Linked DNA regions of Homo sapiens. The protein of the gene in region 2 purifies or fractionates together with the protein of the main gene of each other region. This does not show direct contact. Each region holds a gene or a part of one and is shown on either strand. Other genes may lie near its edges. The genes, in order: MTMR14, MIA3 and SCFD1.

The links.
Region 1: the proteins of MIA3 (region 2) and MTMR14 purify together in Homo sapiens (affinity purification with mass spectrometry, with the first as the bait; one large-scale study listed by BioGRID). This does not show direct contact.
Region 3: the proteins of MIA3 (region 2) and SCFD1 purify together in Homo sapiens (affinity purification with western blotting, with the first as the bait; one study listed by BioGRID). This does not show direct contact.

Annotation. Positions count from the first base shown.
Region 1 is NC_000003.12:9,666,423-9,670,081, forward strand, and holds part of MTMR14 (phosphatidylinositol-3,5-bisphosphate 3-phosphatase MTMR14), read left to right. Parts: intron 1-2,296; coding exon 2,297-2,372; intron 2,373-3,009; coding exon 3,010-3,070; intron 3,071-3,659. UniProt on the Homo sapiens protein: Lipid phosphatase that specifically dephosphorylates the D-3 position of phosphatidylinositol 3-phosphate and phosphatidylinositol 3,5-bisphosphate, generating phosphatidylinositol and phosphatidylinositol 5-phosphate.
Region 2 is NC_000001.11:222,662,976-222,665,839, forward strand, and holds part of MIA3 (transport and Golgi organization protein 1 homolog isoform 1 precursor), read left to right. Parts: intron 1-1,022; coding exon 1,023-1,173; intron 1,174-2,333; coding exon 2,334-2,644; 3' UTR 2,645-2,864.
Region 3 is NC_000014.9:30,730,283-30,733,457, forward strand, and holds part of SCFD1 (sec1 family domain-containing protein 1), read left to right. Parts: intron 1-3,175. UniProt on the Homo sapiens protein: Plays a role in SNARE-pin assembly and Golgi-to-ER retrograde transport via its interaction with COG4. Involved in vesicular transport between the endoplasmic reticulum and the Golgi.

The DNA.
Region 1 (3,659 bases), on a different chromosome or scaffold from region 2:
ACACCTGGCCAATGCCCAAAGTTTCACATCCTACTTAAGATATGCTTTAAGTGTAAAATACACATCAAATTTTGAAGATTTAATAGAAAAAATGTAAAATATTCATTTTAAAAGTGATTACATGTTGACATAATGTCTTGGATATGATGGGTTAAGTAAAGTATATTAAATAATTTTTCAAAACTCAGTTCAAGCATTGAACAGTAAGTTCTCATACCATTTTCTCCCCAAACACTTGAGTCTGGCTTTTAGACCATTGAAACTGGAACAATTCATCTTTCTTTTTGTTTAAGAGGTGGGGAGCAGAGGTCAGAGGTTACTAAATTAGAAAATTATACAGAGTGCTTTTCCACGGACCGTATTAGAGGCCATTCCTAACTAGGTAAATGGAGAGCATTCAGGGTAGATCTTGCGTTTTCAGTCAGGAGCCAGCTTAAAGGGCAGAGATGATGGGTTATGAGTCAGAACCATGAGGCAAAGGAACAGGTGTCTATCAAGAGGGGTCAGCCCTCCCACAGGGGCCTTCCTGAAGAGGCTGGTTCCCCACTTGGGGACTTGGCCAACTTGTTTTTCTCCATCTGACTCGGGTTTTGCTGGCCTAGGTCTGGCTGCCTCAATTACTAAAAAGACAAGGTCAATAGAAGGGATGTGGAAGAATAATTGGGAACAGAAAAAGGGTCTCAGAACTCAACAGCCAAAAAGAAGGCAGCTATCTGCTCTGAAAGATTTAACAGAAATAATGCAAAGGAGAGTGAGGTCAGCTGCCAGCAGCTTAGATGAAGCGGGGAGAGTGGATATGATACAAATGCCAGTGGAACAGGCAGCCACACACCCTGCCAACGTCTTGGAGTCTTAGAGGTCCTCAGCCCTTTCCTGTGGAAGCATCCACTTTACTCCTCACTGCTTGACTGACTTCTTAAAGCAAGGGCTTTTAACGGGGTCTGGGAATGGGTTCATCAGTGGACTTGAGAGAGTCCAGAAATCCCTGGAAATGTAAGTAGATTATGATGTGTACATATTTTTTTTTTCAGGAGATAGTTCATACTTTTTTATCAGATTTTCAAATTGCTTTTAGACCCACAGAAAGTTAAGTGGCCCCCACTGGAGTACATCCTACTTAAGCCAGCAGGAATGCCAGCCCTTGGTAGGCTTCCTCAGTAGGCTTCCAGGACAGCCTCTCCACAAACCAGCTCTTGCCCCAGCACCAATAATGCCCCTCATTCTGTCCCAGGTTATATCCAGGTAGCTTTTCTATTGCTGTCCCCACGTCCCCACCCCTTGTCTGCTGCTACCTCAGATAGAGCCAGAAAGTGACCTAGTCGTTCCCACGCACAACTCTTTGCTGTAGCAGCAAAACTTTCCTTCCCATTATCTTACAGGTAGAGATGGAGAAGCCTTCAGATGGTACTTGGCAATCTTCCAGGGATCCACTTTCCATTTGCACATTGTGTTACCCATTCAGCAGTGAGCTTCACTCCCTGTCTGTCACCTCACAACTTCGCCATTTCCCATTGTAGTGTAACAGGGTCATGTTCTCCTAGCCTTTAGCTAAATTCTGGGCTGGTTTGCCTTCCCATCACCAGGTATCTCCTCCCATTCCCCCCACCCAACTAGATTTCAGCAAACACTATTTATTTTAAACAAGTAACCTTACAATTAGATATTGAGGTTTGTGCCAGTTGCCCGTTTCTAGAATTCTCTTAACAGTGATCCCTTCAGTGATGAGGAAAAGAAGCCTCTAAAACATTTCTCACTCACCCCTTGCCCCCGCTAGAAAGGTTGTTCCTGTCTACACTGAACAGTTCCAAATCACAGTAAGCACATAGAGGTCAGTGGGTTTGGATCAAATCCCAGCTCACCCCTCATTATATGACCTTACACATCACTTAACCTCCCTTAGCCTGTTTTTCTTTTCTTCATCTGTGTAACAGCAACAATGCATGCCACCTGCCACATATCCCTCATGGGCTTGTTGTAAAATTCAGTGAGAAGATGATGGGTTTTTCAGTACCATGTCCAGCACGTGGTACACATGCAACAACCACCCAATCTGATCCGATCCTGTTGGTAACACTGGCGCCTCTTGTTTGGGAGTGAGACTCCCTCAGTAGAGGTTGTGGATTAAGTACTAGGGATCTTCTGACTGATTGTGGCAGCCTTGATGCTGATAAAACTTTGGGGAGTGCTCCTGGGCCCGTTATGCTGGCCTGGAAGAGTCAGAGGAGTCCCACATGTTCCTTCAACTGTGCATGCTTCAGAAAACCATCTGACCGTGAAAATGATGTTTCTCTCCCAGCACATTTGCAGGTCGGCCACACTGGCTGGATGGGGAGAGCTGTATGGACGCTCAGGCTACAACTATTTTTTCTCAGGTGAATGTTGAACAGCATCCTCTGATGTAGAATGAGAACCCAGTCATAGAGAATAGCTACCCGGGCCGGGCGCCATGCCTCACGCCTGTAATCTCAACACTTTGGGAGGCCAAGGCGAGCGGATCCCGAGGTCAGGAGTTCGAGACCATCCTGGCTAACACGGTGAAACCCCATCTCTACTAAAAAATACCAAAAATTTGCCGGGTGTGGTGATGCACACCTGTAGTCCCAGCTACTCAGGAGGCTGAGGCAGGAGAATCGCTTGAACCCGGGAGATGGAGGTTGCAGTGAGCCGAGATCACGCCACTGCACTCCAGCCTGGGCAACAGAGTGAGACTCCGTCTCAAAAAAAAAAAAAAAAGAATAGCCACCCATGACCACAATAGTATAGGTAGGGGGTCTGAGTGAGCTGGGTGGAGATCAGGGGCCTTCCTTTGATCAGGGACCAGGAGACAAACAGGAGTTCACCTTAGAGGTGAAGACTACCAGGCATATGGGGGCATACTGTGTCCTTAGGAGTAGAGCCATGTAGTCCCAGCCCACCCTTGGCACTATGGGGAAGGAGGCTGGTGAGGAGGCCCCTGTGTGGAGCCCTGGGTCACCAGCCTCAGTACTGACAGATAGGTTTCTCTGGCAGGGGGTGCAGATGATGCCTGGGCAGATGTGGAGGACGTCACGGAGGAGGACTGTGCTCTTCGGTCAGTGCTGGGTTGCTGTGGTCAGGGGCTTGTGTTGGGGATGGGGTGTCTGGCCAGAGATGGCCATGTTCATATTGTCCGTGGGTATTTGTCACTGGTTCAGGTGAGTGGATTGGCTTCTTCCTCTTCTGTCTGCCAAGTCTGTGCCCCTGAAATATGGCTGTTGAAGTCCACTGGGTAGCAGCCAAATACCTGAGCAGTCTGTCCCCATCTTGACTGCACACCTGGATTCACAGAGAACATCCCACTCTTGGGGTTCCTGGTACTGCAGGCCCGAGATAGGGCCCAGACATCTATATTTGTTTTAAAGCCCCACAGAGTTGCCAGTTTGCAGCTATGATGCTGATTACCAACCTGCCAGATCTCACCCAGTACAGCTGGTACTGAGGCACAGGGCAAGGGCTACAGTCCATACATAGGAGACATGAGGTCTAGCCTGGAAGGCACATTTGGAGACCAGATGTGTCACAGCTGCATGATTGGTACTACACATAAGAAGAGCTTGGTACAGAACAGGAGTTTGAGTCCCTATAAAAGGAGGAAATGGGCTGGTTCACACTCTTGCTATCCGCTTTCCAAATGTTTTTAG
Region 2 (2,864 bases):
TTAAACAGTGTCCACATAAGTGTATTCTCTTGTAACTTGTATAGCTGTTATGGCTGGTAAGTCCTCTGATCATACCTCACTGTGATTCTCGACATTGAAATTAAAATAATTTTAATGATTGAGAGTTTCCAACCCACTTTCCCATAGGAAGTGATTAATCAGTATCTCATAGTAGACAGTATTACTAGTGAATGAAGATGAATAGAGCTGTGCCTGTATAATTTGTGTACATAACATTGTTTCTCTTGGAAAATACTTCCAAGTTCCAGCACAGGACTCCAGGAATACACATTTCTTGAGAAATGTTTTTATCCAAGAGCAGCTTGGATAAGACCCGAGACCCCTTTGAAGTAGGAGACTTCGAAGAGTGTAGAGACTACTTTGTTAGAAAGGAGAAGCAGAGGTGGAAAGAACGTGGCCTTGGAGTCAAACCTGGCATGGAATTCCAGCCAGCCTCTTACATGCTGTGTGACCATCAGCAAATCTAATACTCTCTGCGCCTGTGTTCCTGCATATTTAGAACAAGATGGTCCTATTACAGATTTAGAGATGTCAGAATTTGTGTTAATATATGTAGGGCCTACAGAAGGTACTCTGAATAATCGCTGTTACATGGTAGAGAATGGATTTTTCATTCCCTTTCATTCTCTGCATTCTTAATATGGAAATTACTCTGATAGGAGGGATGTGCAGAGGGAGTGACTGCCTTAGAAATAGATGTATGAATGGCGTAACTTCTATCATTAGTCAGGAATGACCTCCATTTATAACCTGTGCGTTCCCTTCCATTTGCAGATGTAAGCAATAATATGATACAGCAAGTGTTCACTCCTGTGGCATACTTTTAACCTTTCTAAGCTTGTCAGTGGGAACAAATGAGAGGGGTAGAGTTTTTTGCACTAATTCTGCTCTTTGGACAAGTGCCTGACATCTGCTTCATTGGGTTTTAGTTTTTACTGGTGTTGGTGCTTTTGTCTGTCATACCATAGTATTTCAAAACTTCAATTGTTTCTACTCTGCAGGTTAATATGGCTCCAAAAGGGCCCCCTCCTTTCCCAGGAGTCCCTCTCATGAGCACCCCCATGGGAGGCCCTGTACCACCACCCATTCGATATGGACCACCACCTCAGCTCTGCGGACCTTTTGGGCCTCGGCCACTTCCTCCACCCTTTGGTAAGATGATCTGAACAGTAGTAATTGACTTGTAAAGCACATTCATCTTCTCCATCTATCCCTTGCTAAAACAACTGCAATTGCGGGGCTTTGCAATGCAGCAGTGAAGCTGATTGAGTACACCGTAACTTTTCCCCAAGTTTCTTCAGACACAAAGGGTGCTACATAATCTCCTGTGATTAGATGGGCAATAGTTGTCTCTAATAGAACAAGGAAAGGGGCTATTTATAAAAAGCCAGAAATATTCATCACATTGAACATCTGTGGCTGTGTACTAGGCTCTGCAATGGATAGCAAGGTAGATAAAATACATCCCCTAACTAAGATGTCCTGTAGGTCACAAATATACACATTCTACAACATAAAGCTTCTAATCACCCATAATGGAAGCATAAGCAGTAGGTCACAGAATATTAAGGAAAGACAAAACCCTCAACCCTCACCTTGGGAATACAAAGAAGGGAGATATGAAAGAGAAGGTAGAATTTAACAGCTATCTAATGAATGCTGCTGAATTTAATTAGATGGAGCTGGAAAGCCTTTTCCAGCAGGGCAAGCACCTTAATTTTTATGGCATTTATTAGGTACATCTTGAGCTACTGCATAAATTTTTAACTGATACACAGTAGTTAATGGAATTTATCAAAATTTTTATTGCAATGAAGCCATATTTAGTCTGTCTTCTTGGTATGGTATATAGTACTTCCAAGTACAAATCTATCTCTCTTTTTCAGATAAAGATGGCAGGCCAGGCACAGTGGCTCACGCCTGTAATCCCAGCACTTTATGAATCCCAGCATTCATTAGACGAGGCTGAGGCAGGTGGATCCCTTGAGCCTAGGAGTTTGAGACCAGCCTGGGCAACATGGTGAAACCCCCATCTCTACAAAAAATCCAAAAATTAGCTGGGAGTGGTGGCGTGCACCTGTAGTCCCAGCTACTGGGGAGTCTGAGGTGGGAGGATTGATTGAGTCCGGGAGATTGAGGCTGCAGTGAGCCATGATCACTCATTACACTCCAGCCCATGTGACAGGCAAGACCCTGCCGCCAAAAAAAAAAAAAAAAAAAAAAAAGGATGACAGACTATATTAACATACCTGGCATTATCTTAATTTAAATACGTTCCTAGGAATTTACTGGAAATAATTTTTGTTTTCCAGGCCCTGGTATGCGTCCACCACTAGGCTTAAGAGAATTTGCACCAGGCGTTCCACCAGGAAGACGGGACCTGCCTCTCCACCCTCGGGGATTTTTACCTGGACACGCACCATTTAGACCTTTAGGTTCACTTGGCCCAAGAGAGTACTTTATTCCTGGTACCCGATTACCACCCCCAACCCATGGTCCCCAGGAATACCCACCACCACCTGCTGTAAGAGACTTACTGCCGTCAGGCTCTAGAGATGAGCCTCCACCTGCCTCTCAGAGCACTAGCCAGGACTGTTCACAGGCTTTAAAACAGAGCCCATAAAACTATGACCTCTGAGGTTTCATTGGAAAGAAAGTGTACTGTGCATTATCCATTACAGTAAAGGATTTCATTGGCTTCAAAATCCAAAAGTTTATTTTAAAAGGTTTGTTGTTAGAACTAAGCTGCCTTGGCAGTGTGCATTTTTGAGCCAAACAATTCAAAAATGTCATTTCTTCCCTAAATAAAAATCACCTTTTAAGCTAGAGCGTCCTTACAACTT
Region 3 (3,175 bases), on a different chromosome or scaffold from region 2:
AGTCTTTGCTGTTGTGAATAGTGCCGCAATAAACATACCTGTGCATGTGTCTTTATAGCAGCATGATTTATAATCCTTTGGGTATATACCCAGTAATGGGATGGCTGGGTCAAATGGTATTTCTAGTTCTACATCCTTGAGGAATCGCCACACTGTCTTCCCCAATGGTTGAACTAGTTTACAGTCCCACCAACAGTGTAAAAGTGTTCCTATTTCTCCACATCCTCTCCAGCACCTGTTGTTCCCTGACTTTTTAATGATTGCCATTCTAACTGGTGTGAGATGTATCTCATTGTGGTTTTGATTTGCATTTCTCTGATGGCCAGTGATGATGAGCACTTTTTCATGTGTCTGTTGGCTGCATAAATGTCTTCTTTTTAGAAGTATCTGTTCATATCCTTCGCCCACTTTTTGATGGGGTTGCTTTTTTCTTGTAAAGTTGAGTTCTTTGTAGATTCTGGATATTAGCCCTTTGTCAGATGAGTAGATTGCAAAAATTTTCTCCCATTCTTTAGGTTGCCTGTTCACTCTGATGGTAGTTTCTTTTGCTGTGCAGAAGCTCCTTAGTTTAGTTAGATCCCATTTGTCAATTTTGGCTTTTGTTGCCATTGCTTTTGGTGTTTTAGACATGAAGTCCTTGCCCATGTCTATGTCCTGAATGGTATTGCCTAGGTTTTCTTCTAGGGTTTTTATGGTTTTAGGTCTAACATTTAAGTCTTTAATCCATCTTGAATTAATTTTTGTATAGGGTGTAAGGAAGGGATCCAGTTTCAGCTTTCTACATATGGCTAGCCAGTTTTCCCAGCACCATTTATTAAATAGGGAACCCATTCCCCATTTCTTGTTTTTGTCAGGTTTGTCAAAGATCAGATGGTTGTAGATGTGTGGTATTATATCTGAGGGCTCTGTTCTGTTCCACTGGTCTATATCTCTGTTTTGGTACCAGTACCATGCTGTTTTGGTTACTGTAGCCTTGTAGTATAGTTTGAAGTCAGGTAGTGTGATGCCTCCAGCTTTGTTCTTTTTGCTTAGGATTGACTTGGCAATGCAGGCTCTTTTTTGGTTCCATATGAACTTTAAAGTAGTTTTTTCCAATTCTGTGAAGAAAGTCATTGGTAGCTTGATGGGGATGGCATTGAATCTATAAATTACCTTGGGCAGTATGGCCATTTTCAGGATAATTGATTCTTCCTATCCATGGGCATGGAATGTTCTTCCATTTGTTTGTGTCCTCTTTTACTTCGTTGAGCAGTGGTTTGTAGTTCTCCTTGAAGAGGTCCTTCACATCCCTTGTAAGTTGGATTCCTAGGTATTTTATTCTCTTTGAAGCAATTGTGAATGGGAGTTCACTCATGATTTGGCTCTCTGTTTGTCTATTATTGATGTTTGGGAATGCTTGTGATTTTTGCACATTGATTTTTGTATCCTGAGACTTTGCTGAAGTTGCTTATCTGCTTAAGGAGATTTTGGGCTGAGATAATGGGGTTTTCTAGATATACAATCATGTCATCTGCAAACAGGGACAATTTGACTTCCTCTTTTCCTAATTGAATACCCTGTATTTCTTTCTCCTGCCTGATTGCCCTGGCCAGAACTTCCAACACTATGTTGAATAGGAGAGGTGAGAGAGGGCATCCCTGTCTTGTGCCAGTTTTCAAAGGGAATGCTTCCAGTTTTTGCCCATTCAGTATGATATTGGCTGTGGGCTTGTCATAAATAGCTCTTATTATTTTGAGATACGTCCCATCAATACCTAATTCATTGAGAGTTTTTAGCATGAAGGGCTGTTGAATTTTGTCAAAGACAAAAGGCATTTTCTTAAGTTCATTTTTGGATTCCTCATTCCAAGTGCATAAAAATCCAACCGATTTTTATGTTGATCTTACGTTTCACAGCCTTGCTGAGTTTATTAGTTCCAATTGTTTTTAATGGATTTTTAGAAGTTTCTATATACAAGATCATGTTATCTATTAATAGAGATAGTTTTGCTTCTTTTCTATCTTCTGCAACTGCCCTGGCTAGAACCTTCAGTACATTGTTGAATAGAAGAGGCAAGAGCAGACATCCTTGTCTTCTTTCTCATCATACGGGCAAAGCATCTAGTCTTTGACCATTATATATTTTATTACATTATTCATAGATGCCCTTTAGATCCATTAAATTTTTAGTAGCTACTAAGCTCCCCAGTTTATTGTCCTGAGAGGATTTTTAAATCCCTTTTAGTTTTTTTGTCCTGAATAATCCTAATCTTTTCCCTACCATTCAGCCCTATTAAGAAGGAACTGAGCTAGGTCTATGACAGCCTTCCTCACATCATTAGAAACCTGTGTCAGTACAGTCTCGTAGTATGAAACTAAACATGCGACTATGCCTACATGAGACTGGCAATACAGAATTAACTAACATGGCCCTTGGTTTATACTAGTCCACAACATAAGGGGCAAGTGCCAGAAAATACTGCTGTAATTCTGATTTATTTAGTAATGTTGTTAATCTAACTCACAATGTAAATGCTATTTGGTATAACTTTGGTATAATTGGTAAAAAATAATTTGACTGATTTTATCAAAACATTTGATAATACTAATATTGATGAATTGGGAACTTGACTTAAAACCACAAGGTATTCTCTTGATGGAAGGTGATTGGTTAGAGAAAGAACTACACTGAGTTAATTTTACATTGAATCAATATACTGGTACATTTTATAAAGTTCGATTTTTTTTTCTTTTTTTTTTTTTGAGACAGAGTCTCATTCTCTCACCCAGGCTGGAGTGCAGTGGCGCAGTCTTGGCTCACTGCAACCTCTGCCTCCCGAGTTCAATCAATCAGTTCTCCTGCCTTAGCCTCCTGGGTAGCTGGGATTACAGGCATGCGCCACCACACCTGGCTAATTTTTGTATTTTTAGTAGAGATGGGGTTTCACCATGCTGGCCAGGCTGGTCTCGAACTCCTGACCTTGTGATCCACTTGCCTCGGCCTCCCAAAGTGCTGAGATTACAGGCATGAGCCACTGCGCCCAGCCCATAAAGTTCAATTTTTAACTGACAGAGTAAGTAAAGGGGTCATCAAGCTTGTACATGATTAAGAACAAGTTTGCACTGGAATGTTTGGTAAACTACAGTGTTTCTTTAAAATTACACCTACACTTCATTGGATGGCTAAAAACGATTAG